Linked DNA regions of Homo sapiens. The protein of the gene in region 7 purifies or fractionates together with the protein of the main gene of each other region. This does not show direct contact. Each region holds a gene or a part of one and is shown on either strand. Other genes may lie near its edges. The genes, in order: HAUS5, CEP164, SMG7, C5orf34, MYO9A, PIK3C2A and CRYL1.

Region 1 (4,177 bases), on a different chromosome or scaffold from region 7:
GAGATGACAAAACCTCCTGGCCTCATGGACATTCCATCCTAATGGTTCCAGAATTCTGGAACCCAAGAAGGGATCAGGGCAGAGCCCTGAGGTCTCTAAGAGAATGTCTGGCCACCCAGCCTGGTGAGGGTGGGTCCCTGAGGCCCACCTCTCCATGTCCTGCAGGCGCCTCAGTTGATTCTGCAGCCGCTGCATGGGATCTCGGAGCGTATGCTGCTGTCTTCGCATGGCCCCAGCTTGGGCCCGGAGGAGGAGAGCTCGACGCTGGGTGTCTTGAGTGTGCTGACGTGCCTGCTCCATGGCCGTGTCTGTGGGAGGAACAGGGGTGGCCATCAGCACCTTTCCCGCCCCACATTCTGGTGCCCATCTTCTGGCCCCATGGCTCACCCTGAGCCTCAGTGTCTCGCTCCATCAGCTCCAGGCTCTGGTCGAGTTCCTGGATTTCTGCCCGCAGGCGGGTCACAGCAGCTTCCAGCTCTAACTTCCGACGGACCTGGGAGGATCAGATTCAGGGTCAGATGGTCTGATCGGGGCTCAGCCTGGCCTGTCTTTTGGGGGTACCAGGCTCCTCAACTGGTGGCAGAGGGTTTTTGCTCAGCAGTTTCTGTGTCTGACACAGAAGCATTAGGGTATTGGCTCCCTCCCTCCTTCCTCCTAGGATTGTCTTACCCACACTTCCAGCCTGTTTCCTGTCTGTGCTGGTGACAACCACATCTTTGTCCCAGTACTGATCTCTTCCCGGAGCCCTGCACCTAGAAGTCCCAAGGCCTCCTGGAAGCCTCCCCTTAGGTGTCATATGAGCCCCTTGCACCCATTGGGTCCCACACTGGCCTCAGCATCTCTCCCATACCTGTCCCATCATCTCTTCTCACCAGCTTTGATGCCACATATCCAGGTCCCACCTCTCTGCGCCCAGCTAATTAATGCTCTTTATTTATTTTTTCTTTTTTTGAGATAGAGTCTCGCTCTATTGCCCAGGCTGGAGTGCAGTAGTGCGATCTCAGCTCACTGCAACCTCTGCCTCCCAGGTTCAAGCGATTCTCCTGCCTCAGCCTCCCAAGTAGCTAGGATTACAGGCGTGTGCCACCACGCCTGGCTAATTTTTTATTTTTATTAGAGACAGGGCTTCACCGTGTTGGCCAGGCTGGTCTCGAACTCCTGACCTCAGGTGATCCGCCTCCCAAACCACATCTTTGTCCCAGTACTGATCGCTTCCTGGAGCCCTCAGGTGATCTCATCACCTGAGATGAGGCCTCAGGTGAGCCTCCCAAAGTGCTGGGATTACAGGTGTGAGCCACTGCACCTGGCTGAGCTAATGCTGTTTCCACTGGACTTTAAGCCCTATGAGGATGGAGATCAAGGCTGTCTTGTGACCCATTGTCCCCAGCATCACCCAGCACCTGGTTGGGCTTAGAGCAGAAGATCTACAAGTCATTTTTCGGATGAAAGAGAATCTTGTAGCATATGCTTCTCACCTGTGGACTGTCCTGGTGGCCATACCTAGGAAAACGAGGCCAGAGTCAGCGGATGAGTGGGGCTTCTAGGGGGGAGGGCAATAGGTGTGATGCTGTGGTGGGGACAGGGCTAAATGGGAGTGGGGAAGACAGGAGGGGATAGCTTTAAGAAGCAGTTACCAGAGTAGGTTTCCCCGGATCTTCTTGACAGTCCTACAGTGCAGAGGCAGAAAGAGGAGTTACTATGGGCCTCACCTGTGCCCCCTCCCCTGCTCTAGCCCAGCTTACCTCTGACTGTGCACATGCTGCAAGATGTAGGCCCAGATGTCAGCCCCCTGGCCCAGACACAGCCTGTGGGGACAGTGTGTAAGCATATGCCTGGGGCAGCACACAGGGTGTGGGATCCTCATTCCTAGGGTGATGGTGGTAGGGAGTTTTTACTAGGGAGTTCTCACTTCTTGAGGAGGGAAGGCCCAAACTTTTTTTTGCCTTTTTTTTTTTTTTTTTTTTAAGAGACAGTCTCGCTCTGTCGCAGTGGTACGATCATAGCTCCTTGCAGCCTCAACCTCCTGGGCTCATGCGATCCTCCCACCTCAGCCTCCAGAGTAGCTAGGACTACAGGCAGGCACCACTACACCCGGCTAATTGGTAAAACATTTTTTTTGTAGGGACTGGATGTTTGCACTAAGTGTGGTGTTATTCTCATTCCCTGGGAAGGCGGGTGGTGGGGGAGCGCGGGAGAGGCGGGTGCTCCCTTTCTCCTGGGAGTGGGTTATCCCAGTCACATCCAGAGGTGGAGGTGGGGGATGTACTGCCAGGAAGTGCCATCTCATGACCAGACGTGGGGCATCACTCCTACAGCTTCAATCCCCGATGGGGTGGCCACGGCTAACTCCTGAGTGTCCTTCTTGGTTAGGTTAAGGGAGGGAGGGGAGGTGCTGCGGGGACAGCCTCACTCTGGAGATCCTATTTCCATAAGGAGCGAGGTCTTAGCTAACTCGTGGAGGATCCTCACCAGTGCTAGGGACCTCACTCTGGGGAGCCTCCCAGGGTAGGGAGCCCTCAGTAAGTCGGGTCACTCTCGATGGGGAATTGGGGGGAGTCGAGTCCTCAATGAGGGGTGGAGTTCTCACTCCCGGAGACTCAATCTCCAGGGTGGGGTGTCCTCACTCCAGGAGCGGTCCTCACCTGCGCAGCGTCGATTCCGGGGCCCGGGCCGCCACGGGCACCCCCATCTCTTCGACCGCCCAGCAACCCAGTTCCCGCGCTTCCTGCGCTAGCTCCATGACAGCGCCGCGGCGGCGACACCGCCTCCCTCAGCCTCTTCAAGTGTGGCGCCCGCCTCTGACGTCACGGGCGCGCCAACAGTGACGTCATCGGTTGCCGGGCAGACAGCGGGCTCGGGCGCTGCATAGTAATCTTAGCGCGGTCAGGCTGGGTCTTGCAGCGCTCACTCTTCCCAGGTAGGTCTCCTTGAGTGGAAATGAAAAGGGCGTGGAGAGACTGCAGCCCCGCCCGCCTTCCCTCGTTCTCCCGCTCACTACCAGCTAACCCGAAAGAGGCAAAACAGTCCTTGATGCTTCCATTTATTTTCTTTTTCTTCTTTTAACTAAACACTTTTATTTTAATAGAGATGGGATCTCACTTGTTGCCCAGGCTAGTCTCAGCTTCTGGGCTCTTGAACTCCTGGGCTCAAGCGATCCTCCCGCCTCGGCCTCCCAAAATGTTGGGATTACAGGCGTGAGCCACCACGCTCACCCCCTTTATTTTCTTGACAAAATGGGACTTGCGTCCTAGGAGGACTGGAACCAGGCAATGAGATCCTGGACTTACTGCTCTTTGATTTCAGAAACAGGTGTCTCATGTCTGAGTGGAGGGTAGGGGCAGAGAGCATGACCCTAACATTTCCCTGGCATGCGTTTTCCCATTCATTCGTGCTTACCATTCCATAAACTCAGGGAGCTGACCCTGTGCTGGGTGATGCTGGGGACACCATGGTGACCACAACAGCCCTGGTCCCTATTGTACGGAGCTCACAGTTGAGTGGGGAGACAGACGCACCACCAGGTAGGGGTGGTAAAAATAAGCAGCAGGGGTGGGTCAATTTGGGACACAGCAGGTGTGAGAGGTCTGCGCTAGACCAGCAGTCCCCAACCTTTTGAGCATCAGGGACTGGTTTCATGGAAGACAATTTTTCCACAGTCTGGGGGATGGAGGGTGGGAGCAGTGGATGGTTTCGGGATGAAACTGTTCCACTTCAGGTCGTGAGGCATTATATTCTCTGTCTCTCTCTCTCTTTTTTTTTTTCTTCCCTGTTTTTTTTTTTGAGGTGAAGTCTCCCTCTTTCACCCAGGCTGGAGTGCAGTGGCCCGATCTCGGCTCAGCGCAATCTTTGCCTCCGGGGTTCAAGCGATTCTACTGCCTCAGCCTCCTGAGTAGCTGGGATTACAGGCGCCCGCTACCATGCCCAGCTAATTTTTGTATTTTTAGTAGAGACGGGGTTTCACCATGTTGGCCAGGCTGGTCTTGAACTCCTGACCTTAAGTGATCAGCCCATCTCAGCCTCCCAAAGTGCTAGCATTACAGGTGTGAGCCACCATGCCCCGCCTAAGCATTAGATTCTCATAAGGAGTGCGCAATCTAGATCCTTCGTATGCACAGTTCACAATAGGGTTTGCGCTCCTGTAAGAATCTAATGCCGCTCCTGATCTGGCAGGAGGTGG
Region 2 (2,957 bases), on a different chromosome or scaffold from region 7:
CACATGTAGGGAGCTCAGCTACTTTACTGGGGACCCCAGGCATGTAAAGGTTCTCTAAGCCTTGGTTTCCTCGTCCATAAAAACAGAGGAGAAAATATCTACATCAATATCTACATTGTTGCGATGATTAAATCAGATACTACATAGGGCAGTGTTCTATGAATATTCATTTTTCCTTCCTCCCTTCTCAGGAAGGAGGCAAAGGCCTCCCAAAAGAAGGAGACACATTTACATGACTGCCTTGTAGAAAATGGACCTGCAGAGATTTAAATGATGCAGAAAATACCCAGGATTATCACTAGAGTTGGTGCACCACATAAGCTATTCCCAAAGCACACATGATGAAACGGAGTTTTCTATGTAGTGGGCTGATGCTTAAAAGGCATCTGAGGAGATCAACAGCCAGTTGGATCTTAGTTTCTTATTCCATGACCACGAAATGAGTTGGAGGACGGAAGGAGTTAATTTGTGTGTCAGAGAAGCAAGGGCAACCCCACAGCTTGCAAAAAAAAAAACAAAAATAAGTGCATTTTATTTAAACAACGGAACAAACATCAGAGAGCATCCCCTGCAAAGCCCCCACCCCAGAGCCTGCTGATGGAAGCGGGGCTGCAGGACGCTCTGCCACAACGGCAGCATCTCCAACTGCACAAAGACCCCTTGCTGCCAGGGCCGGGCACCGGCCTAGCTCCTTGCCTGCCTGCCTGAGGCAGCCGTGGAATCAGGGCAGGGGTGGCACAGGTAGAAAAGACAGATGGAAACAATGCCCATGAATATACCCAAAGTGTCCCAGGAGGATAAAAGCCATCATGAGGACCAGAAGCCAACCCAGTCTTTTTTTGGCCTCCTGGAGAAGTTGTTTTTGAGACCTGAGACTCCAGCTGAAATGGCTCCCTGAGGAGCCCCAGGGAGCAGGAGGGGTGTTCTGAGGACAGCCCCTGAGGAAAACACAGTGCCTGCAGAGGGACAGCCCCCAGCACCCTCCGGCAGGGCTCTGGACAGCTAAGCCCAGTCCTGAGAGGGTCAAAAAGAGAGATGGAATGCTCAAGAAAAGAGGCATTTAAAAATTAAGAGAAGAAAGACAAAAAAGAAAGGGTCTGATCTGAGGCTGAGGTATTGGAGATAGATGTGGGCCCAGAGAAATCGGGTCCCAGGGTACACACATGCTGGGGGTCTTTGTCCTGATGAATTAAGAACCATACACACAACCTCCTTGGGAGCCCCGAGCAGTGCGCTGCAGGGCCAAGGAAACAACCAGCTCCAAAGGGACTCCCTGAGCCTCCGAAGGCAGCTCCTCTAACGCCTCCCTTCCTCCCAAAGGGCTCCCGGCCCTGATACCCCGCAGCCACCGCACGCCATCAGCTTGCCATGTCAATGACAAGAGCTCGTACGAGTCCACACATTTTAGCCTGAGATAGGTTATATAGTCACAGAATGTGTGGCTTTACTGTTCCACTCAACCCCCTGGTCCCTGGTGGCTCCTGCAAGTCAAAGGGGGAAGGAGGGTGCTTTCTCAGATGGAAGAAGGCAGGCAGCTCCTCAGGCACTTGGTCTGGGTGGAGGAGAGGCTGGGCTGCCCCAAGCCCCTGCTCAGGGCCTCAGAAGCGATACACCTTCACTCTGTTGTGCTCATCAAGGCCCAGCTGCAGGAGGCTCAAAGTAGCTTTTGGCTTGGGTGTTGACGAGAAGAGAGGTCTGGCCACAAGGTGAAGGAAAACTGCAGTCGCTGGGCATAGCCAGGCAGGGGCCATGAAAGGGTCAAAGGCTGAACAGGATCCTCCTCAGCCCCTCAGGGCACAAGCACAGTCCCCACAGCCCAGCCCAGTTTGGGAACCAGGTAAAAGGATACAACCTGGGGTCATTCTTGACACGTTCCAGCCACCTCCGGTTGGCCTCAATTATGCCCTGAAAGGTGGTGCTGCCCGCCTCAGGGACTTGCGAATGGGAGTGCTGTAGGAGCCGGAGCTGCTCACTGGGAAGGAAGAGGAGAGCATGGCGAGGGGAGAGAGGAGGCGCGGAAGTGACAGAGGATGCACAGAGGCCATCACATCTGTCACCTCCTCCCTCTTTCTCTCAGCTACCAGAGCAGCTTCTCCGAGGTCCCTAGCAATTCAAAGCTTCAAAACATCTGCCCCTCCAGAACAGTTCCCAAACGGGAAAGTGGTGGAGGCCCTCTGCCCCCTTGCTGGGTGCTACTGATACAAGGCTCTGGGCTCCCACATCCGCCTGCTCCCGCCAATCTCATCAGCAAAGCGCTCCCCTCTGTCAACTCAATCCTTGGCCAGCATCAGCTCTCAAGTTGGCCAAAGGGTTAGTGGGGGGTACTCACTGTTAGCTGCCTAAGGGAGGGAGAGGGGAAAACATTTGGCAAGGAATGAGATGAATGGAAAATTAATAACAGGTTTAAATAATTGCCCGTCTGTCTCCTCCACAGGGTGTCCCTCTCACTCCAGATGTTGCTCAGCAGGACTGGGGGAATAAGGGAGCCACAGGAAGCAAACAAGAGCTCAAGGGCAAAGACAAAGGCCAGACTCCGGGGCTGGAGGGGCTAGAGGGAGGGGCGGGGGCAGGGTCCCACCAGGGGCTGACTCCTCCCCACAGGGGCCAGAGGGCAGCTTCCTCAGGGGGTTGGCAGGGTAAGCCCAGCCCTTCCCCACTGGGACCTTGGCGGTGTGAACTTGACTTTCCCCTGGTCATGGAGGGGCGCCTCAGACCCAGGCAAGCGGGGACAGCTCTGTGGACTAGAGGCCTGCCTGATTTCTTGGGGTAAGACCAGGAGGTCTGCTCCCCTCAGAGGTCCACCTGCCCAGGGAGGCACAGTGAGCAGCTCGACTATGACGTTCCACCCCAACCAGCCCCCAGGGAGGCTCACCTGGCAGACATGTAACCCAGCCTGCTCTCCAGCGGGGTGGGGCTGTTGCTGAGCAGCGGGATGCCAGCTGGAAGAGCATGGGGAC
Region 3 (3,500 bases), on a different chromosome or scaffold from region 7:
TGCTTAGTTACAATTTCCCAGACAGCTGATAAGTCTATTCATAACAATACAGCAACTAAACTAAAATATGGCTTGACTGCAAAACTTTAATGGCAATATATAATGGCCATCTGCCAATATACCTACAAACAGATGAATAATCCACTATCTACAAGACGTATGCTTTATAATTTATTCTCTACACAAGATCAATTAAACTAACCCATCTAAACTTTCAGGCACTCATTCATGACACTAATACAAAAATTTGAAAGGCTAGCCGGAGGCAGGAAACAATTTTTCTCAAGTATAAAACACACCAGCCCTTTTAAAGTGTGAACCACTCTCCACCTCAAAACTGCCTCATGAAACTTGCAATACTAGTGGGTCCAGATCTTACTGTAACACATCCATTAAAAACAACAACATAAAACTCAGCAATTGCTTCTTCTACCATGAAGGCAGAAGACCACAGCTGTTAGAAAGCAAAGAAATGAAACCTAAGATAGGACAGGAAGTATACATTTTGAATCCAAATGAAACCACAAGGGAAGCAGAAATTAACTGCCAAAATAATTTAGTCAGACAATATCCAAGCAGGTAATAAGCTATTAACACTGTTATAACAAAGACTTATAAGCCTAAAGAGACAGTCATTCATTCAAAAAATGTCACCACCTTTGGCTGATATTCCGGGACAAAAGCTACTTTACATTCTGTAAAGCATGTACCTGGTGGAAAGGAAGGGGATGGGGCAGGTGAAGAAGACTTCGTGGACCACATGGACTAAAATCAGCATGTGCTCTAAGACTTCTAGAAGCTTCAGGATACAGTGACTATCTGATCTAGCATTACTAGACTCTTCTAGAACCTGGAGACCATCCTATTTATATATTCCTCCCAATGCTCCCACTATCTTCTCTGTTCCTCTCCCCAGGCTAGGATAAGGCTTAGCTTGCTACTTTATCCAGCCTTATCTCCACTATCTCTCTGTTTCAAGATTTATAGTGATACATTTTTATTTTATACCATATTGGATATTTTACTTCCTATTTAAATGACAACCATTTTTCTGCTGGCTTAGAAAACAACCCTGTGGCTGTTATATTAGTAACAAAACTTCTGACAAGTGAGCCACTGAGATGCAGCGTCTTCACTATACATGTATCATACAAAAAATATATGTATATATACACACATATGTGCATAGACACATATACATATATGTATACATACACACATACACACATGTATATATGCACACATATGCACACACATGTATATATGCATATATACACATGCACACACGTATATATGCATATATACACATATGCACACACGTATATATGCATATATACACATATGCACACACGTATATATGCATATATACACATATGCACACACGTATATATGCATATATACACATATGCACACACGTATATATGCATATATACACATATGCACACACGTATATATGCATATATACACATATGCACACACATGTATATATGCATATATACACATATGCACACACGTGTATATATGCATATATACACATATGCACACATGTATATATGTATATATACACATATGCACACATACACACACACACACACACACAAAACAAAACAGATACTTTCTGGACCTTTCCTGTAAAGGAGTCTAACAGTAGGAATCCACTTCAAGTGGATCTCACTGAAACACTCACAGCATAGGAAGAAATTAGAGACAAAAGAGAATAGTGAAGGAAGAAAAGGAGGAAAGTTGAAGGGAGCATAGAGTATGAACAGTGGCTCCCACAATGGCAGCAGAAGTCATTCGGTGGCACCTGTGCCACCTTTTATAACAGGATTTGACCTGTTTGACTGGTATTCCCTATAGCTATGATTATTCTACTTTCTCATCTTCCAAAACAACTTTGATGTCTTCTCTGTCTGGTACTTTAATACTTCCCCCACTCCTGCTTTTCCAACTTTGATATGTTAATTTCCACTTTTCTTTTTTTCAAAATGCCATTATTTTAAAGCATAATATTATACCTCACCTGCGGCCTATCCTAACCTTCTCCTACCCCCATCAAATGAATTGTATTCAATACACCCTTTCTTTTACTCAACAGAGGTGTCAAAGTCTTTTAAAATCTTTCATTCTGTCATAAATCAAAAGAGAAAATACTCTGAATTCTCCTTCAATTTGAGTAATAAATTCCCAATGTTATTCGGCCTAGAACCCTCATATTTAAGATCATATTTTTATTTTTATAAAACATAACAAAGTATTTTCAACTTAACTGATTCTCTTAGAAGTCTTGTCAGTGTATTAAAAAGATACTTACCTTTCAACAAACAAAAAATTTCATTATCCTTTCCTGCCCAGAATATCATCATCTTTCCCACATAGAAGATAGGTTTTCTTCCTTTCATCTCTGCTCTATTTTTATAACTTGAGACTAATTCAGTTCCCTTGATGTTGAATTCTCTCTTTATTGGTCTTACTGGGACTTCTTGCCTCCTATCTTCATTTCTGACCCTTCTGAAACAGCCATCTTGCTCCTTGGTTTCCCACCACCCCACCATTTCAATGCCAGACATCCCAGCTCATTTACTCTAACAAATTAAAATTCAGCCAAGACAAAACTAATTTTCATCTACATGAGGCAGGATCTGTAGCTATAGAGATTAAAAATTGCCCAGTCATGATCTTCCACCACTGACAAAGGTAGGCAAGAAAATTCTTCAAGTCAAGGTCACGAAAACAATTGCTACACCCCCCAACCACATCCATTCAGCAATACTCGGCATCCTCCCTGAAGTGTCTATAAAAACCAACAGTTCTATTTTCAAAGAACGTGAACATAATGCTTCCCTAAAGACATTCTCTAGTGTCCCCACTGCAGACTTTAAATGGAATGATTATCTAAAAGAGGAGGAGGGAAATTCAGACTGGCACAAGCCTTTATGATTCCCACAACCACCACCTAGGTCTCAGACTTCTAACACTTGTTTTAATTTACTTAGGACAAATGCCTAAGATTGAGACAAGACTGGCTCCAGGAATCTTTAAGGGACCCCAGGACCTATGCCTCCCCCATTTTGCCTGCTCAATTTTAGCTGAAAAATATCATTGTATTCATTTTTTTTCTCCCTTCTTCAAAGAACTAAGTTCATCTCAAACTATCATTGATTCCACATCTAAGGAAGTCTTCCCTACCATGTCAAGCTATAAAATATAAGGCACATTAACAAGAAGCCTCTCAAAGTCCACTGATCTTCCCCATTAAAAGTACCACCACTCTGCCAATTTGTTTTTCATAACTTTCTAGATCCACTGCCAGTACCTTATTCAGGACCAAAGTCCCAAAGGGAATCTTTTGTAAGGAAAAGAACCTTACAAAAAGGACCAATTTTGAAGTCTTCCCCTTTTCTAAGCAGTAGTCACTCCCCAATTAATGTCAGGCTCTAACAACCTTACTTTTCTCTGTTATCCACCACTACATTACACAGAGTCATTTTCCTAACACA
Region 4 (3,500 bases), on a different chromosome or scaffold from region 7:
ATGTTTGAAATTTCCATAGTTAAAAAAATCTCAATTTTTAACTCTATTCCCTAGGGATTCTGATAATCTGATTAGTATTTAAATACTCCACTCTGTAATGAAGAGAGAAAACATACTTATTTTGTTCTAGCATGCAAAGTAGTGTGATACTATAGTGATTGCTGTGAAATGGTAGATGTCAAATATCAGAGGGGCAATAAGCAAATTAAAACTCATTAACAAAATATTGACATTATTAAGACTATGGGCTGGTAATTATACCATGTTATGTTTCACTGTTTTCAGCAACAGAGAACAATCTTATTCAACTGTCTAGTTGTATATAAAGATTTAGAAGTTAAGAGGTGCTTAAAATACACAATTACATGGTGGGGAAAAAAGAATGTGCTTTTGCTTTTTAATGTACAAATATTAATTCAAAGTAGTGTATTAACTCAAAGTCCTGGTTTCAGCATTTTCCATCAATAAAGTCTATGACAAAAGAAAGTTTCTGATTTAAACATGAACTGCTTAGGCAAATGGAGATAGCAGGTGAAAATACAGTAAAAATAAGGTGGTTAATAATTACTGTACCAATGCTGGCAGTAAGATTATATTAATACTCCAGACTGGGGAGTAGGAAGCAATGTTATATAATGACCAAATTTCCCATATATATTTGGAATTATTTAGAAAGAGCTATACAGCAAAACTCTTCTTGAGTTGAGTTCATTGTTGGCTTACCTTTCCTGATCCTTCTTGAATAGAATAATAAGTAAAATAGTTCCCAAAATAAGCCCCTTCTGATTTGAAAACAGATCCATCCCCAGAATAAATCTCTATTGAGTTCATATTTTGATGGGTAAGTCTAAGAAATAGAAATAACCATTAAAAATTTTTTTCCACTTGAGATTAAAACATGCATGAAGATAGTCATCAAAAAACAGTAACAACAAAATCTAAGCAAAACAACACAGTCTTTTTGCCTGTCCAGTGAAGCAGATAATTTCATATTCTGAACCCAACCAGCTAAATTAACTCTTTCACGAAAAGATAAATAGAATTGGCTTATGCATTTATTTCAACAACTAAACTAAGAACTTCTGGAATTCAGGCATCTTGTCTTATCATCTTCTTGATATCCCCACTGCTAATCACAAGGCTGGCATATAAGGGTCACCAAAGCAATGTCTATTGCATACGTGTTAAATACAACATTTCCAGAACCTGAAAATAGATTAATGAAACTAGCGGAATCAATACTTTATGGATAAGATTAGCCGTCTGCACAAGGGGCTATCCCTAAGAAAAGATGGCTGTACCTGGAGCAGCCAGGTACAATCAAGGTACTGGGTATATACCAAATAGAAACTTAAGCCAAGTTAATTTTATTAACATACATGTTAGAATATGTTGTTAGAAGGAATAGGTCTTCACATAGGAAAAGGAGAGCCCCCTCGCTCTCCAAAAATTTAGCAGTGCTCTTCTAGCATTGTTCATGGAAGTGAAACTCTCAATCTGGCTAACACTAGTATTCTAGTCACTAGAAGGGTGTCCTTTGTTGTGGGGTATGGATAATTCAATGGAACAGTGCTGGCACAGAGTGGCCACTCAATGAGTATTTGCTTTGTGAATGAAGGCTAAAATCTCCCTTAGGTGATCTAACTTCTCTAATTCCATGCTCAAGCAATTCTGTTTTGACTATTTCAAACAACTTGATCCTCCAATGCTTGGAAGGAGTATCCTAAATAACTGATATGAATGTTACATTCACTAGCAAACCAATCCCTCATTGGCTTTGGAGGTACCACATAAGTCTTATAAAAATGGTTAATGTGAGTGAGTCACAGGACCCTTGTGTGCACTAATAACATTAGTTTTGAGACCTGTAAAACTCAGGATCAAACACAGGAGCACAGTTGGCCCAACAGAACTGTGTCCTCTTCTGAGAGTCTGTCTATAAGGCTCGTCCCATCTTCTCTGTGACATCAATAAACAGCTCTAACTCCAACATAGAAGCCAACATAGGTGCCTTACCTATATGTAACACCTTTGTACCAAACCATTTTCACTAGTTCAGGATAGGAATATTCATCAGATTGTCTCTGTAAAAGTGAATCACAAAAATTCCACCTGTGAAGGATAAAATACAAGCTATTACTTCTGGTTGCTCAATATAATTGTCTTTAGAAGTCAACAAAATGTTGCTACTGTAACAGGATTAATTTCTTGTTTAACTCACTAGATCAAAGAATAAAAATTAATATGAAGGTATATTAATGAAATGTAAAAAGCAAGTCTTTTTCCATGTTTTTTTCACTATTTTCAATAATCTCATTATTGAATCTCAGCACAATTACATAAATTAACAGTTTTAATAACATTTAAAATTTAGCCTGGATTCGCTAGGCATGGTGGCTCATGCCTGTAATCCCAGCACTTTGGGAGGCCAAGGCGGGCGGATCACGAGGTCAGGAGTTTGAGATCAGCCTGACCAACATGGTGAAAACCCGTCTCTACTAAAAATACAAAAATTAGGCGTAGTGGCACGTGCCTGTAATCCCAGCTACTCAGGAGGCTGAGGCAGAAGAATCGCTTGAACCCGGGAGGCGGAGGTTGCAGTGAGCTGAGATCGCGCCAGCCTGGGTGACAGAGCGAGAATCCATCTCAAAAAAAAAAAAAAAAATTACTAAAATATCTATAGTGGGCCAAGCACTGTGCTATACACACTGTGGATATAACAACCAAAAAAATGTAGACATGGTCTCTGCCCTCAGCAGGGACATTAAATAATAAACATTGAGTGTAAAGAAGAGGCAAGTACTGCATGCTATGGAATTGTATAGGACTTAACTTGTTTAGGGTCTTCAGGAAAACCACTCTAAAGAAGTTAGGTTTAAGCTGAAACCTGGAAATGAGCATAATTTAGCCAGCTGAGAGAGAAAGAGAACACTCCTGCAGAGTAAAGAGTAGGTGCAGTGGTCACAGAGTGCTTGAGCAAGCATTTTAGGGATTGCTAAAGTCCAGCTTAGCAAGAATAGAGAAAGCAAGGGCAAGAGTAGTGAGAGAGTTGAGGATTACAGATATAGGAAGGGACCAGGTCACAAAAGACCTGGTAAGCTATGTGAAGGATCATGGATTTCAACCTAAACATCATGGTAAGTTATTGAAAAATCATTACTTTTGAAGCATAATTCCCTTTTGATGTGTACTCGTAATACTTTTCTCATTTTAACCAGATAATCATGACAAGCCTAACAGTCATTCCCATATTTTTGTTTTAAATAACAAATGTATACTCAGAGATTGCCTGGGATCAAATCTCAATTTTACAAGTACTAGCTGTGTACCTTTCCTCAAGTTATTTAACATTTCTATGTCGCAAGTTCCTCTACATATAGGGATGATACGTTTTTTAACTTCATGGGAATGCTTTGAGAATCAAACGGGTGAAGTCCAACAGTACCTGGCACATAAGTGTTTTGTAAGTGTTAGTTTTTATCATTATGATTTGCACTGTT
Region 5 (3,500 bases), on a different chromosome or scaffold from region 7:
AAAAAAAAAAAATTGGGGGTAATATTTGCCTCATAAGACTATCATTGGAGTTAAAAAAATTTTTATGTAAAGCACCAAGCATATAGTAGGTACTCAGTAAGTCTTCCTTTTCCCTCTTGAATACGTCTATTTCCTGTTTTATTTATTAATTTTTTTTTTTTTTTAAGACAATCTCACTCTGTCACCCAGGCTGGAGTGCAGTGGCGCAATCTCGGCTCACTGCAACCTCTGCCTCCTGGGTTCAAGTGATTCTCGTGCCTCAGCCTCCCGAGTAGCTGGGACTACAGGTGCACGCCACCATGCCCGGCTAATTTTGTATTTTTAGTAGAGACAGGATTTCACCATATTGACCAAGCTGGTCTTGAACTCCTGACCTCAAGCGATCTGCCTGCCTTGGCCTCCCAAAATGCTGGGATTATAGGTGTGAGCCACTGTGCGCAGCCTATTTCTTGTTATGTTTAAATGTGAAATCAATAATTTTTTTTTTTTTTTGAGATGGAGTCTCGCTCTGTTGCCCAGGCTGGAGTGCAGGGGTGCAATCTCGGCTCACTGCAAGCTCTGCCTCCCAGGTTCACGCCATTCTCCTGCCTCAGCCTCCCGAGTAGCTGGGAATACAGGCACCTGCCACCACTCCCGGCTAATTTTTTGTATTTTTAGTAGAGACAGGGCTTCACCATGTTAGTCAGGATGGTCTCGATCTCCTGACCTTGTGATCCGCCCGCTTCGGCCTCCCAAAGTGCTGGGATTACAGGCGTGAGCCACCATGCCCGGCCGAAATCAAGAATTTTAAGAATTTCACTGTGTGGCTTTTAGAATAAATGGCTAATCAAAGTTTGTTGCTAAAAGAAGCAGATATTAGGGCAGTCTGTCTACTAGTTGTCTTTCAAGTGTGATTTTTTTCAGTTAAAATATTTCTTGTGGCATTGGGGCATTTAAAAAATATTTTTGAAAAAATACTGCAAAGAAATGCTTCTCTTGATGTCTTAGCATATAAGATTAATGGATTTTAGAATGTATTTGATTCAGTGTGAGTTATCATAACAAAATGTGTTCTGTTTGTCAATGACAAACATTCCTTAAATAATTGACAGATTTTAGTACTATTGCTGTTTGTAGTGTGTAAGTATTTGTTTGAAATCTGTTTATTTTTATTGATCAGATGATAGTGGGCTGAGTAATCTCTGGAATTTTCTTTTTTTTTTTTTTTTTTTTTTTGAGATGGAGTCTTGCTCTGTCTCCCAGGCTGGAGTGCAGTGGTGCAATTTCGGCTCACTGCAACCTCCGGCTTCCGGGTTCAAGTGATTCTCCTGCCTCAGCCTCCCAAGTAGCTGGGATTACAGGTGCCTGCCACCGTGCCCAGCTAATTTTTGTATTTTTAGTAGAGATGGGGTTTTGCCATGTTGGCCAGGAAGGTCTTCAACTGCTGACCTCAGGTAATCTACCTGCCTCGGCCTCCCAAAGTGCTGGGATTACAGGTGTGAGCCACCACACCCGGCCTGGAATTTCCTTTTTGTTTTTTTCTTGAGACAGCATCTCACTGTATTGCCCAGGCTGGACTCAAGCTCCTGGGCTCAAGCAGTCCTCCCACTTCAACCTCCTGAGTAGCTGGTACTACAGATGTGTGCCACTACGCTGCCTGGCTAGATTTTTTTTTTTTTTTTAATGTAAGGGAGAAAGTTCTTAGGTGACTGTGTGGACATGTTTATAAACGATTTTTAGATTTTTTTTGCCTTATTTATTTATTTATTTTTTTGTGAGACAGAGTCTTGCTCTGTCGCCCAGGCTACAGTGCAGTGGTGCGATCTTGGCTCACTGCAGCCTCCACTTTCGAGGTTCAAGTGATTCTTGATTCTTGTGCCTCAGCGTCCCAAGTAGCTGGGATTACAGGTGTGTGCCACCACACTCAGCTAATTTTTGTATTTTTAATAGAGACAGGGTTTCACCATATTGGCCAGACTGGTCTCAAACTGCTGACCTCAAGCGATCCGCCTGCCTTGGCCTCCCAAAATGCTGTGATTACAGGCGTGAACCACTGCACCCGACTAATATTTTTGTCTTATTTTGCTTTTGCAACTCTGTTTTCTTTTAGTTCTCTTTCTTCCCTCCCCTATTGTTTTATAATTAAGATCTTAAAGAAATAGAAAAGTTGGAAGAGAACACTAATTATGTCTATCAACTAGATTCAAAAGATAGCGTTATGCCATCCATATTTGCATTATTGTTCCCTGTGTGATTGTGTGTGTGTATTTTTTTTTTTTTTTTAGACAGAGCCTTGCTCTGTCACCCAGGCTGGAGTGCAGTGGCATGATCTTGGCTCACTGCATGCTCCACCTCCTGGGTTCACACCATTCTCCTGCCTCAGCCTCCCGAGTAGCTGGGACTACAGGCACCCGCCACCACGCCTGGCTAATTTTTTATATTTTTAGTAGAGGTGGCGTTTCACGGTGTTAGTCAGGATGGTCTCGACCTCCTGACCTCATGATCTGCCTGCTGCCTCGGCCTCCCAGAATGCTGGGATTACAGGCCTGAGCCACCACGCCCGGCTGTGATTGTATATATTTTTGCAGAACCTTTTGAAAGTAAGTTGCGGCTGGGTGCCGTGACTCACATCTGTAACCCCAGCACTTTGGAAAGCCGAGGCAGGTGGATCACCTGAGGTCAGGAGTTTGAGACCAGCCTGGCCAACATGGTGAAACCCTGTCTTTACTAAAAATACAAAAATTAGCTGGGCGTGGTGGTGGGTGCTTATAATCCCAGCTACTCGGGAGACTGAGGCAGGAGAATCACTTCAACCTGGGAGGTGGAGGTTGTGGTGAGCTGAGATTGCACCATTGCCCTCCAGCCTGGGTGACAAGAGTGAAACTCTGTCTCAAAAAAAAAAAAAAAAATGTATGTGTCATGACAAGTTTACTGCAAAATACTTCGTATATATTTTCTAAGAAATACATATTTTTCGTATCACCAGTGTGCTATTACCAACACCTAGGAAAAATAATACCCTAATTTAATATTGAATTTATATTTGAATTTTCCCAACTGTCCTGAAAAATGTTTTTTTCAAAAGAGAACTCACTTTTAGTTTTTGCATTTCATTTGATTATCTCTTTTTAGTCTCTCAATGTAGGAAGTTCCTTCCCACATTTCTCTTCCCTGTGACATTGAAATGTCTTTGAAGAGACCAATCATCTTGTAGAATGGCCTGTTTTCTAGAGTTTTCTGATTGTTTCTTAGATTGTTTAACTTGTTCTTCTGGTGCTTGTATGTCCTGTAAACTGGAAGTTATATTGTAAAGGATTGAATAGATTCATATTAAAAAGTTTTGGCAAGAACACTCTGTAGGTGATGTTGTATATCATGTTGTGTGTTAATGGGAGGCACATAATGTCAGCTGTCCTCCTATCAGTGATGTAAGTTCGATAGGTTTAAGGTGGTGTTTGCTTATGTCTCCATTTTAAAAGTAAATTTTTTCTCCTGTTATGTACAATAATCTGTGGGACTGA
Region 6 (3,456 bases), on a different chromosome or scaffold from region 7:
AAGGGACAGGAATTGCTCCCTGGGGGGGCTCGGCTCGAGACAGGAGTCTTGCCAATGCCCGCGGCCGAATAAACCCCTTCCTTTAACTCCGCGTCTGAGGAGTTTTGTCTGCGGCTTGTCCTGCTACACTAAAAATACAAAAATTAGCCGGGCGTGGTTGTGTGTGCCTGTAGTTCCAGCTACTCAGGAAGCTGAGGCAGGAGAATCGCTTTAACCCAGGAGATGGAGGTTGCAGTGAGCCGAGATGTCGCCACTGCACTCCAGGCCTGGGAGACAAAGTAAGACTCTGTCTCAAAAAAAAAAAAGAGTTAACACTCAGAAGTCAGAATCTCTATTTGAACATTTTTAGGGGCAACTAACAGGTTAGTTCTGAAATTCAGGATTATTAAACCTAATAGACTCCTGGGTGAGATGCAAAGAACATCAAGAGTGAGCTCATTGCAAAGTCTGGAACCAAAAATGTTAGTATGTCAACAAGGAAAGAAATGATAGCAGAGTTCTTTTATTCCAGAAATATTTTAATACAATCGTAGTACAGTTATGAAGTCACATTCAATCCACTGAATATATTCAAGGTATTAATAAAAATATTATACATCTTTATTCACTATCTTAATATAATTAAAGTATTTGGTTCTTATAGGTAAGATTAATTACCATATTCATTCATATATGCACTGCTAGTCAAACAACATGGAAATGAATGTATGGATTATGATAGTGGGGGTTCAGTCCTTTTTGATCTGAAGTCTAAGTTTCAAAAGTGAATGTTTTCTTTTTTAAATGTCACAATATTTGAATCCTAGAAAGAATAGGCAACTAATTTAAGGCAAGATATTGAAACTTTTATACAACTTTAATTTGAAAAAAGAAATGATCAAAGATCATACATGCCTTAACATTTAGATACCTATAGATTCATATAAAGGCAGTAATAAAAATATCAGTGCAAGTTCTACATTGGGTTCCTCAGTAGAGAAAATAATAGGTTCTTTGAGTGAACCATTATCTTCAAATCCCAAAACACTGGCAAGAAGAAATAATTCTTCTGATGCAGGACAACATGTAGCATAATTATTTTTAGTCAATAAAGGTGAGTATAAAATATTGTGATTATACATAAAAATTAGTGTCTTGGCCAGTTTGTTAAACTTTTTTTAGATTTACTTTAATGTCAGCTTTTAAAAAATGCTTAAAAATCCAACTGATTTAAAATTTATTGATAGTAGTAGTGCAAAGAGGCTCCACTCTACTTTTTGGTACGGGCTGAAGATTAGCATTTCATAAAGAAATAAACTATATGTAAAATGTATGTGTGTTTGAATGAGTAAAGAAGGCACAAAATGAGTTAAATTAAGAGAAAACATTACCACTTGTTCTGAACTCTTAACTGTACAGTATTATAATATACACTTAGATATGAATCCAGATTTCTTATAATGGAAGTGACAGGACATTTTTTAGCTCTATTATTTGTGCTAAAAGACACTGTCATAATAGACTGCAAAAAGGCAGTACATGTTGAGTCTAATTAACGACCTCTACCAAGACAGTTTTTGTTTGTTTGTTTGTTTTTAAATTACAGTGGCTAAGTGATAACTGGTGGAATGGAATTCGGTCTCAAAAGCTTAAGTGAAAATTACTAGTACATTTGCATTTGCAAAGGTACTTACATACTTTAAGGAAATGTTAATGATCTGTGGAAAAAGCAAATGGTGGTGCTTTGATCTGCATTTTAATTAACATTAAATAGACAACACATTTTAACATTTAAAAAAGACATTCATATACCATACTCATGGGTTTAACTACATATGGACCATTAGTGTTAGGCACCAAAAATTTCAAGTCTTTCCCCCACCCCGTCCCAGTGATATATTATCAACTCTTCTATTTCTTCCCTGTAGGTATCACCATTTACATTAAACATTTGTGCAGTTCATAAAAATTCTGTTCTGGGAAACTGAATTGGCGATTGTCCTTTCTCTCTTGGTATTCTTTATTGCATATTTTGTCAGTTTTCTCACAGCAACCTGATTGGTACAATTTCTATTACCATTTTTAAAGTATCTGTATTTCTATTCTAACCATGAGTTCTTATTATATATATGTATATATCCAAATTAACAAAATTGTGTCTGAAGTTGAGTAACTAATAAAAATGAATCTTACTCTTTTTTTCTTTTTTTTTAAGATGGAGTTTTGCTCTTGTCACCCAGGCGGGAGTGCAGTGGCGTGATCTCGGCTCACTGCAACCTCCGCCTCCTGGGTTCAAGCGATTCTCCTGCCTCAGCCCCCCAAGTAGCTGGGATTACAGATGCCCGCTACCACGCCTGGCTAATTTTTGTGTAGAGACGGGGTTTCACCATGTTGGCCAGGCTGGTCTCAAACTCCTGACCTCAGGTGATCCGCCCACCTTGGCCTCCCAAAGTGTTGGGATTACAGGCAGGAGCCACCGTGCCCGGCCGAATCTTATTCTTACTGGTTACTGTAGAATAATTTCAGTCCTGTCCCTTATGATTCTGAATCCAATTATATAAAGGAAAATAACTTTTCATGTGAATGTAAAATGTTTACACACATAAGTAAGACAGTTTACAAGACAAACTGGTCTACACAGACAAAGGTCTATATTAAAGTTCAATCTGGACCCTAGAATTCTTGTCATGGGCCTCTTGTGAAGAGTCTGCCCTACTCAGGAATGGGCACATGGGTTAACAATTTTCACTTATTTACTGAGGGAGTGGAGTATAGATGTAGGGAGGTGAAATTACCATTCCTGGGAATAAATGTAGGATTTTAATGGAATGATAGAATTTATTGTACAATCACATTGGTGAGTCTTATTCAGGTATTAGGCTTAACTATTTAGATAACTAATTCATACATCAGAAGTAAAGGATTTTTTTGTGGGAAAAACATTAGTACATGTACATAATTTCTTGTCTTTAGTAAGCTGCAAGTGAGTGAAAACTATGTACTAATTATTTATCAAATCAGGAAAAAAATCAGAAACGAAGTGCCAGGGAAGCATATAAAGTTAAGGCACCATTATTTACAACATCAGTGATTGGCACTTATTCTGAAAAAGGCTTTAAAGACATGAATAAAAAGCAGTATTACGTTTTTCCCTACTTCTATAAACTACTTAGTAGTTCTTAACTTAGCTATCTATTATTTGTGCTTTGTTTTTCAGCTCCATGAATAGCAGCTGGATTTTACGGTAACATCCTGCATTTTTCCTTTACTTTGGTGTTTGTGAACATTACACAGTGGTAAAGGCTATAAAAGGTGCATAACAGGAAAACACATATGCTTTGCCTCCTTATAGAAAACAATGCAAAATAGGTGGCTGAACTGACATAGTACTGTCTCAAAGTCTTTTTCAGGAATTAGTATATATTAAGTTTAGGGTTTGTAGCATTCTACATAATGACTTTAAAACAGCAATGGCTT
Region 7 (3,500 bases):
CTGTATAACCTTGGGCAAATGACTTAAGTTCACTGCATCTCAGTTTCCCCATCTGTGAAATGGGGACAACAGTAACTGCTTCCTCAGGGTGGTGTGAGAATTGAACCAGATGGAAGCTCTTAGCTGGATTGCTGGCACCTGTTAAGTCCTTAATATATGTTATATTCAAACAGAGCTTTGTCTTGTTTCTTTCACGTACTACTTTTCTAGTTTTTTTCGTTGTTGTTTTATTTTTGGTTTTTAAAATTCTTCCAAAAAGATTCACAAGTGCAGAGAGAGGAATAAATACAGATTAGGATTTTATTTATTTATTTATTTATTATTATTATACTGTAAGTTTTAGGGTACATGTGCACAATGTGCAGGTTAGTTACATATGTATACATGTGCCATGCTGGTGCGCTGCACCCACTAACTCGTCATCTAGCATTAGGTATATCTCCCAATGCTATCCCTCCCCCCTCCCCCCACCCCACTACAGTCCCCAGAGTGTGATGTTCCCCTTCCTGTGTTCATGTGTTCTCATTGTTCAATTCCCACCTATGAGTGAGAATATGCGGTGTTGGGTTTTTTTGTTCTTGCGATAGTTTACTGAGAATGATGATTTCCAATTTCATCCATGTCCTTACAGAGGACATGAACTCATCATTTTTATGGCTGCATAGTATTCCATGGTGTATATGTGCCACATTTTCTTAATCCAGTCTATCATTGTTGGACATTTGGGTTGGTTCCAAGTCTTTGCTATTGTGAATAATGCCGCTATAAACATACGTGTGCATGTATCTTTATAGCAGCATGATTTATAGTCCTTTGGGTATATACCCAGTAATGGGATGGCTGGGTCAAATGGTATTTCTAGTTCTAGATCCCTGAGGAATCGCCACACAGACTTCCACAATGGTTGAACTAGTTTACAGTCCCACCAACAGTGTAAAAGTGTTCCTATTTCTCCACATCCTCTCCGGCACCTATTGTTTCTTGACTTTTTAATGATTGCCATTCTAACTGGTGTGAGATGGTATCTCATTGTGGTTTTGATTTGCATTTCTCTGATGGCCAGTGATGGTGAGCATTTTTTCATGTGTTTTTTGGCTGCATAAATGTCTTCTTTTGAGAAGTGTCTGTTCATGTCCTTCGCCCACTTTTTGATGGGGTTGTTTGCTTTTTTCTTGTAAATTTGTTTGAGTTCATTGTAGATTCTGGATATTAGCCCTTTGTCAGATGAGTAGGTTGTGAAAATTTTCTCCCATTTTGTAGGTTGCCTGTTCACTCTGATGGTAGTTTCTTTTGCTGTGCAGAAGCTCTTGAGTTTAATTAGATCCCATTTGTCAATTTTGGCTTTTGTTGCCATTGCTTTTGGTGTTTTAGACATGAAGTCCTTGCCCATGCCTATGTCCTGAATGGTAATGCCTAGGTTTTCTTCTAGGGTTTTTATGGTTTTAGGTTTAAAGTCTTTAATGGTTTATGTTAAAGTCTTTTATGGTTTAAGTCTTTAATCCATCTTGAATTGATTTTTGTATAAGGTGTAAGGAAGGGATCCAGTTTCAGCTTTCTACCTATGGCTAGCCAGTTTTCCCAGCACCATTTATTAAATAGGGAATCCGTTCCCCATTGCTTGTTTTTCTCAGGTTTGTCAAAGATCAGATAGTTGTAGATATGCAGCATTATTTCTGAGGGCTCTGTTCTGTTCCATTGATCTATATCTCTGTTTTGGTACCAGTACCATGCTGTTTTGGTTACTGTAGCCTTGTAGTATAGCTTGAAGTCAGGTAGTGTGATGCCTCCAGCTTTGTTCTTTTGGCTTAGGACTGACTTGGTGATGCGGGCTCTGTTTTGGTTCCATATGAACTTTAAAGTAGTTTTTTCCAATTCTGTGAAGAAAGTCATTGGTAGCTTGATGGGGATGGCATTGAATCTGTAAATTACCTTGGGCAGTGTGGCCATTTTCATGATATTGATTCTTCCTACCCATGAGCATGGAATGCTCTTCCATTTGTTTGTATCCTCTTTTATTTCCTTGAGCAGTGGTTTGTAGTTCTCCTTGAAGAGGTCCTTCACATCCCTTGTAAGTTGGATTCCTAGGTATTTTATTCTCTTTGAAGCAATTGTGAATGGGAGTTCACTCATGATTTGGCTCTCTGTTTGTCTGTTGTTGGTGTATAAGAATGCAGGCCAAAATCTCCTTAAGCTGATAAGCAACTTCAGCAAAGTCTCAGGATACAAAATCAATGTACAAAAATCACAAGATTAGGATTTTTGCTATGGCATGGAGAAGCCTCTGGAACCAGGTACCTAGAGTTTCCCAGCCGGGTTTGTTTCTTTGCTAAGCTTTAGACTCGCAGGTCAGTAGAGAGAGAAACCGCTCAGCCTTGTCCCTGGGGCTGTTTGGGTTCCTCCTGCATTTTGTTCCACTTGAAATGAGGACATCTCAGAATCTGGCAGCGTGGAAATCGCCTCCAGGGGAAGTGGATGTTTATTTACCATTTTGCCTCACAGATTTCCTCTCCTGTGTAGACACTTGCCTTTTTCAAAACTGAGATGCCTGGTGGCTGGTGGGTTTGGTTGATTGATGGGAAGCAATTATTTGCCAGCCAGTGGAAGCAGGTGAGCTGATGGGCGGGGACTTGCTGAGGTGAGGTGAGGGGCCCGGGTCGGTTCTGCCTCCCCTACCCTGGGCAAGTCCTCACTCAGGTGGGAATTTGATCCTGAGAGTAGGAATGAGATAATGTCGCTCTGTGCTTTGAGGCATTTTTGATCTTCCTTAATGAGTTCTGTGAAACCCTGTCTCTAAAAAGCAGGTGAATTCATACAGGTGTGGGTTCATAGCTGCGTGAAAGAAAACCGGACTTCCCATGTATGGGTGGCAATTAAGGCTCTCCAAGGAGCTGATGCCTGGAATCCCTCCTAGTGGCTGTGGCCTCGGGCTGGGGTTAAGGCCTCCTCTGGTGCCTGCTGCATACATGGGAACAGAAAGGATTCCTGCCTGTGCACCTGGGGCATTCAAACCCACTGTCCCTCAGAGGCCCACAGCCCAAGGCTCGCAAGTTAGAAAGCAGCAAGTTAAGCTACATCCAATCTCATGAGAATCAATTCTTTTTTCTACTCTTTGTCTTTTTCTGGATAAGCATCTCTTAAGAAATTAGGTTCAGAATCTTCTAAAAAGCCAAGCTCTACAAGGGTTTTGGAAGAATTAGAACTCAAAGGGACAGAGGGCATGGAAGCACAGAAGAAAAAATACAGGGGAGGCTGGATTAGATAGAAATAGTGGGGAAGGGCAGACCAGGGGATCAAAAGTGAAGTGGGCTGTGTTGTATTTTTCCTATTTCCAAAGAAATTGGCATTTTAGAGTAATTTACACCCAATTCTCCTCTCGTGGTGTAGAGAAGCCAAAATAATTGTTGAAAATAAATTACACCTCCCTAAAATGGAAGGGGAGGAGTTGCAAATAACAGTCACAGTCATAAGTTTACTGGGACATGGTTGTAAATAATCAGGCA

Evidence for each region.
Region 1: the proteins of CRYL1 (region 7) and HAUS5 purify together in Homo sapiens (affinity purification with mass spectrometry; 2 studies listed by BioGRID and IntAct, with this or other methods). This does not show direct contact.
Region 2: the proteins of CRYL1 (region 7) and CEP164 purify together in Homo sapiens (affinity purification with mass spectrometry; 2 studies listed by BioGRID and IntAct, with this or other methods). This does not show direct contact.
Region 3: the proteins of CRYL1 (region 7) and SMG7 purify together in Homo sapiens (affinity purification with mass spectrometry; 2 studies listed by BioGRID and IntAct, with this or other methods). This does not show direct contact.
Region 4: the proteins of CRYL1 (region 7) and C5orf34 purify together in Homo sapiens (affinity purification with mass spectrometry; 2 studies listed by BioGRID and IntAct, with this or other methods). This does not show direct contact.
Region 5: the proteins of CRYL1 (region 7) and MYO9A purify together in Homo sapiens (affinity purification with mass spectrometry; 2 studies listed by BioGRID and IntAct, with this or other methods). This does not show direct contact.
Region 6: the proteins of CRYL1 (region 7) and PIK3C2A purify together in Homo sapiens (affinity purification with mass spectrometry; 2 studies listed by BioGRID and IntAct, with this or other methods). This does not show direct contact.

What each region holds. Positions count from the first base shown.
Region 1 is NC_000019.10:35,611,358-35,615,534, reverse strand, and holds the start of HAUS5 (HAUS augmin-like complex subunit 5), read right to left. Parts: upstream 2,801-4,177; 5' UTR 2,741-2,800; coding exon 2,643-2,740; intron 1,806-2,642; coding exon 1,743-1,805; intron 1,668-1,742; coding exon 1,635-1,667; intron 1,501-1,634; coding exon 1,476-1,500; exon of another isoform or gene 1,401-1,475; intron 494-1,400; coding exon 388-493; intron 309-387; coding exon 149-308; intron 1-148.
Region 2 is NC_000011.10:117,410,810-117,413,766, reverse strand, and holds the end of CEP164 (centrosomal protein of 164 kDa), read right to left. Parts: intron 2,940-2,957; coding exon 2,873-2,939; intron 2,470-2,872; coding exon of another isoform or gene 2,445-2,469; exon of another isoform or gene 1,973-2,444; coding exon 1,850-1,972; intron 1,696-1,849; coding exon 1,599-1,695; 3' UTR 501-1,598; downstream 1-500. UniProt on the Homo sapiens protein: Plays a role in microtubule organization and/or maintenance for the formation of primary cilia (PC), a microtubule-based structure that protrudes from the surface of epithelial cells. Plays a critical role in G2/M checkpoint and nuclear divisions.
Region 3 is NC_000001.11:183,475,499-183,478,998, reverse strand, and holds part of SMG7 (nonsense-mediated mRNA decay factor SMG7), read right to left. Parts: intron 1-3,500. UniProt on the Homo sapiens protein: Plays a role in nonsense-mediated mRNA decay. Recruits UPF1 to cytoplasmic mRNA decay bodies.
Region 4 is NC_000005.10:43,501,649-43,505,148, forward strand, and holds part of C5orf34 (uncharacterized protein C5orf34), read right to left. Parts: intron 2,113-3,500; coding exon 2,017-2,112; intron 848-2,016; coding exon 724-847; intron 1-723.
Region 5 is NC_000015.10:72,108,151-72,111,650, reverse strand, and holds part of MYO9A (unconventional myosin-IXa), read left to right. Parts: intron 1-3,500. UniProt on the Homo sapiens protein: Myosins are actin-based motor molecules with ATPase activity. Unconventional myosins serve in intracellular movements. Regulates Rho by stimulating it's GTPase activity in neurons.
Region 6 is NC_000011.10:17,086,075-17,089,530, forward strand, and holds the end of PIK3C2A (phosphatidylinositol 4-phosphate 3-kinase C2 domain-containing subunit alpha), read right to left. Parts: 3' UTR 501-3,456; downstream 1-500.
Region 7 is NC_000013.11:20,407,358-20,410,857, reverse strand, and holds part of CRYL1 (lambda-crystallin homolog), read left to right. Parts: intron 1-3,500. UniProt on the Homo sapiens protein: Has high L-gulonate 3-dehydrogenase activity. It also exhibits low dehydrogenase activity toward L-3-hydroxybutyrate (HBA) and L-threonate.